Linked DNA regions of Homo sapiens: region 2 is linked to region 1. Evidence: fine-mapped expression QTL. Tissue or cell type: whole blood. Region 1 holds a variant in brackets; the other region holds the start of a gene. All regions are shown on one strand. Distances are between the middles of the regions.

Region 1 (2,760 bases):
GAAGGCCACCCTCCTGTGTGTTTGTACCATCTGAGATATTGAAAGTTGACATTTTTTTCCTACCAAATAAGGAGGAACTGATGGCTGGATGGAAGCTTCTTTTTCTAAACTTACAGCTTTTAGGCCAAAACCATGTGAAGTTTTTCATTAATTCTAAGTGTAAAGTGGTCCTAAAATTGTCTAGAAGTAAGCTGATGATATACTGATGGTATTAGTTTCTGAACCCATCCACTACAGTAAAGGGCTGGTTTCTGCCCATGTGAAGTAATTTCTCTATTTCTCATTTTCAGAGATATGATCATAACAAGAATGATAAGATTCTTCCAATCAGTCTCGAGCCATCCTCAAGCACTGAGCCTACTCAGTCTAACCTAAGGTAAGATGATGTACTATAGAAAGACACAGTAATTCAGGAGCTTCAGCCATTTCATTATTCCATGTCTTCGTTCATAAAATAGTGAGTCTTCAGACTCTTAGAATTTATTAACTTGACAAGAGAGATGTTCAGTTAGTCTCCAGAATGTATACATTTCCTCTCCTTCCATCCACCTAAGGTCATATACTCCCCATTTACAGAATCATTCCCTCGAAAAAGACTGGGTGTAGCTACTACACACCAACCCTTGTGCTTGGCACTAAAATTACAAAGACAGGTCAGTCATTACCCTAAAAACAAGCATTTTAATAAGGCCTTGGGTCTCTTTGGCATTTGTCATTATATACTAATTTTTCCCCAATCTTAAGTTCCCTTATACAAAATTTTAGTTTGCAGATGTTTGATTCTATGTACCATTGCAACAGCCATAACAGTTTTGGTTCTAGTTTGTACAAATTGTTAGTTATTTGAAGTTTAAAACAGGAGAACTAAGGGTTGGGTAGAGGAAGGGGAAGTTAAGTGGATGGTTGAGCAGAAGTAGAAGGTGGGTTTTTTGTTTGTTTGTTTTTTGTTTTGTTTTGTTTTGCCTTGTAGCCTAGGGAGACATTTTAGCAATAACAATAACAATAGCCAGGATTTATTGAGCTTACGCTGAAGCAGGCACTGTGCTAAACACTTTATTTGCAGTGTGTCATTTACTTATGGCTGAGATCACACAGATGGCAAATAACACTCAGGATTTAAAGCCAGGTCTATTAGACCTCAAAATTCAGTCTTGTAGTTACTACTTCAAAGAAGCCCCAGGCTGTAAATGCAGGACTAAAACCTGTTCCGGGGCAGGGGAAGAAAATACGTGAAGGAGCATCAGTGATACATAAGGATCAGAAACCAACAATTCTAAAGTCAGGAAAGTGATGCCTATTTGGGTGGAGTACCAAGCAGGGGAAATAAATGCCTTTCTTGTATATTATCTGCACCAAACAAAACAGATTTACAAGCATCTCATTAAACCCAAGGGAAGGTGTTCCTGAAATGTTTTCAGGAATGGTAAATTGGTAAATTTAAATTCATTCTATAGTTATTCATTTAAGTTTAATATGATTTTTTTTTTTTATTTCGTGCTCTAGGGAATTAAGGGACTTCTGTAGAGTCACTGGGAGCATATATCCACTGTGTTATTTTCCTCATAAGATTTGAACCTCCTTGATCACAGATTGATTTCCATGAAGGTTTTCATAAATCTAACTAACTCCTATTTGAAAGAGATGACTGCATTTATGCTTGGTGGTCTTCATGTTACAATGAACATGTCTTTAGTTTCTTATGATTTGTATATGCCACTTGTTTACAAGATAGCCTAG[G/C]GTTTTCCATCTATTTTTTTATCCAGAGGACCTCAGCTTACATCTCTCTATTAACATCTATGCCTAATGAGAGAAGGTTGCTTCCCTGTGACTTATACAAAATCAGTGACCAGCTGTGGCATTAATGGAAGAGGGGCCAGAATGCATCTCGGTAATATATCAGTGTTCTTTTTCTTGTAACTTAGTTTTTAAATTTCTCGCCCATGTATACCTTTCGAGGATCTCCAAAAGCCCATGTATATACTCCTTCCAAGTTTCTCTCACTGGCCATAGACCATTAACGCATCAAGAATGGAAAATGAAGGTAGCCATAGGCCAAAAAATACCTACTCCCTGAGTGCTCTGCATTCTGATCCAGGGATAGCAATGATCTCAATCAAAAGCAAATTCCTCGCAACTTCTCTAAGATCTCCTCTCCCTTCCTGTACAATATAGGACTATTCAGCTCTTAACTTGATGGAGAAGAAAAAATGAGGGCTTTGGTGATGAGTTGAATCCTCACTACAGTTTGTTAACTGTGTGAACCTTGATCATATCACCACCTCTGCATTTGTTTCTGTATCTATAAAACATGCATGATAACCCATGTAGAGCCATTGCAAGGATTAAAAACATTATAAGTAGGTCGAGTGCAGTGGCTCATGCCTGTAATCCCAGCATTTAGGGAGGCTGAGGCAGGAGGATTACTTGAAGCCAGGAGTTCAAGACCAGCCTGGACAACATAGTGAGACTCCATCTCTACAAAAAAAGTTAAAAAAATCAGATGGGGCTGGGCGCGGTAGCTCACGCCTGTAATCCCAGCACTTTGGGAGGTCAAGGCGGACGGATCACGAGGTCAAGAGATTGAGACCATTCTGGCCAAAATGGTGAAACCCTGTCTCTACTAAAAGTACAAAAATTAGCTGGGCGTGGTGGCGCTTGCTACCTGTAATCCCGGCTACTTGGGAGGCTGAGGCAAGAGAATTGCTTGAACCTGGGAGGCGGAGGTTGCAGTGAGCCGAAATCACACCACTGCACTCCAGC
Region 2 (2,760 bases), 21 kb before region 1:
AGGACGGCTTCCTTGGCCATCTCCTACAGCCCAACTAGGTCAAGTGTCCTGTAGTCTGCTTTCATAGCACCCTTTACTTCATCATAGCACTTAATTCTTAACAATACAAGCTAACATTTGTGTAATTATTTGATTGTCTAATTCCCTCCATATGACTCTAAGTACTACAAGGACTAATCTATGATTTTCTTGTTCACTGCTGTATCCCCAGTACCTGGTACATTGCCAGAACACAGAAGACACTGTGAATGTGATGAATACATCAGTGAAAGTCCAGAAAGATAAATTCCTTATCCAGGGTAAACCAGAATCGGATGGGAATCTACCCTTACTATTATGGTAGGTTCTGGGCTTCCCAGCGTTGCCTCCACTGTCTCTGGTTTGCCAGATTTTTGCTTAGAGATAGTAGATGATGTTCTTCTCTAAATGCAGTACCAGGTAAAGAAAGGTACTTGTAGTATCTGACTATACACAGAATCATTATGCACCTGGCACGGCCAAAGAAGGAATGAGACACTTTAACAGGTAGAGAAAGGGCTTTTGCCTAAGAGTTAAGAGATCTGGATTCCAGTATGCCTACCTTATCACTCCCTGCCATCTGCCATTTAGATTCATAATCACACGTATTCAAAAAGCATTTGCGGCAGCTCTACCACTGACTTGTGACTTGTACCAAGTGATTTCTCCTACGTAGATTTTGTTTCAACCATAAAATGAAGGGGTCAGATCAGGTTTTCATTCTTTCCAACTATAAAGCTTTCCAAAATGGGGGGAAATGCAACAGTGTGGTTTAAAACAAAATAAAGGCACTAAACTTAGAGAAAACTCCGAGTCTTGGTTCCAGCACTTCCTAGGCACGTGACCTTAAATCGGTCAAACTCTCAGGACTTCCGTCTCATCTGTAAAACGTAAATGACAATACTATTTGTCAGGGTTAAGTAAATGGAGAAGGGCTACTGAAATGACAACTGTTTTGCCACTGGGTGGCACAGAGTGGTGGTTAAAAGTCCAGGCTTAGGAGTCGGATAGCCCTAGGTCTGAATTTAAGCGCCCTCACTTTCTGACCGCGTGACCCTGGTAAAATTACCTATGTGAGCTTCCGTTTCTTCATTATGGGAGATAATAATATCTACTCCTATGGGATTGTTCTGAAACTCAAACGTTCCCGTCAAGTGTGCGGCTACTCTTTAGTAAGTTCCTCCAGCATCCCCTAAATTCCTAGCTGGTAAAAGGAGCCCCGCCCCCACCCCATGAGACTCGCTCCAATGCCACAGGTCCCGCCCTCAGCCTTAAAGGTCAAGCTGGACTCGAACGGGTCGGGGACGGTAGTCTGGTCCCCTGAGGTCCCCCAGAGGTCCCTGAGTAAGGGTCTCTGGCACCCAGACCACACGCGCCCCTCGAGGCCCTGTCAAGGACACTCACCAGCTATCGCCCAGGTTACTAAGGAAAGACTCGTGCGACGGCGGCGACCGCAGCTGCGCGGACGTCGTGACGTCACGAAGCCAGGAGGCGGCGCAGGCTTAACGCGTCACGGGCGGCCTGGCAGCTGGCGGCATTGAGGCGGACGCGTCTAGAGGTCCGTCTGACCGCGGCGTCGGGACCTGGTTTCCGGGCATGAGCTGAGAGCACCACGCCGAGGCCACGAGGTGAGTTCGGCCGCGACATGTCCCTGCACCTCAGCGATGGGCCCGCTAAGAGGTCTTACAGGAGGCCGCCCTCGCAGGACTGCATCTCAGGCCCCGCCCCGGATTGTCCTGTCGCTGGCCCGGAAATAACAATCCGAGTAATGACCCTTCGCCTGTAGGAATTCGCAGCCAGAAATCGGGAAGCCAGGGTTCCAGGCATGACCCCACCGCTTGCTGTTAGGATCAGGTGTCTCTTCTTCTCTGGATTGCACTTTCCCCAGATGACTATTTCTGGCTTCCAGAGTTATTGCAGCTCAGCTGGAAAGACAAATGTAACCGCGTTTTGTGAACTCTGGTAGTCTAAAGGATTGTTGCTATTGCAAACGCAAAGCATTTTGATAGTCCCGTGCCGTCTTGATCTTTTATTACCCTTTACCTTTCCTCAAAAAGCCATATTCTGAGCTGTCACCAAAATTGTCTTATTTAAGACTCACAACGACCTCGTGAGACGACAAATTGTACCCATTCTAGGAAGGAAAAAGAAACTAAGTCTTCGAGTGGAGAAGCGGCTTGCTTCATTTAGTAAATATTAAGCACCAACCGTGAGACAGGCAGTGTACTTAAGTGCTAGAAATAGAACCGTGATCAAGATTGGCAAGGTCCTGTGCTGTGGGAGCTTACGTTCTAGTGAAGGAAATAGAAGAGGAAACATTAAGTAATACATTGAATTAGCATTTAGTAGGAGGAAAAAGATGGAAAAGTGGCTATGATATAGAATAACAAGGAACTCTGTTTAGGAAAGCTTTTCTATCGAGAGGATGCTTAAAGAAAGGTCATGTGACTTGCTAAAGGTGCAGTTACTAGGTGCAAAAGTCAGGATTTGAACCCAGACCCGCATAGCCTGCACTCTTACCAGTAAAACATGGTACCTTTTCGTGGTAATAAATATTAATAGCTATTGGTATTATTCCTGATTTTAGACATGAGAAAATCAGAATGTCCTATCATTCAAGTCCCAAATGTCATCTCCTTTAGAGAGGCCTTCCCTCCACTCAATCTATAGTCGTCGAGTCCCTGTCACATCACCCTGCTTAATTGTGTTTGTGGCATGTATCACTAATTATATCTTCTTTAT

What was found. PIP is the estimated chance that this variant, and not a neighbour inherited with it, causes the effect.
Region 2: it holds the start of RBM18, and the variant in region 1 is fine-mapped to the expression of RBM18 in whole blood (INTERVAL, PIP above 0.99).

The regions. Positions count from the first base shown.
Region 1 is chr9:122,242,872-122,245,631 of GRCh38, reverse strand. RBM18 (RNA binding motif protein 18) reads left to right here. Exons shown (of 6, transcript NM_033117.4): 5 at 291-376. Among named protein-coding and RNA genes, the nearest start is that of LHX6, 15 kb to the right of the region's middle. The variant G/C (reference allele first, on the strand shown) is at 1,738.
Region 2 is chr9:122,263,601-122,266,360 of GRCh38, reverse strand. It overlaps RBM18 (RNA binding motif protein 18), which reads left to right and starts at 1,521. Exons shown (of 6, transcript NM_033117.4): 1 at 1,521-1,646. MRRF (mitochondrial ribosome recycling factor) reads right to left here and starts at 1,479. Exons shown (of 7, transcript NM_138777.5): 1 at 1,423-1,479. RefSeq lists enhancers at 1,062-1,221, 397-1,367, 790-1,989, 1,368-2,339.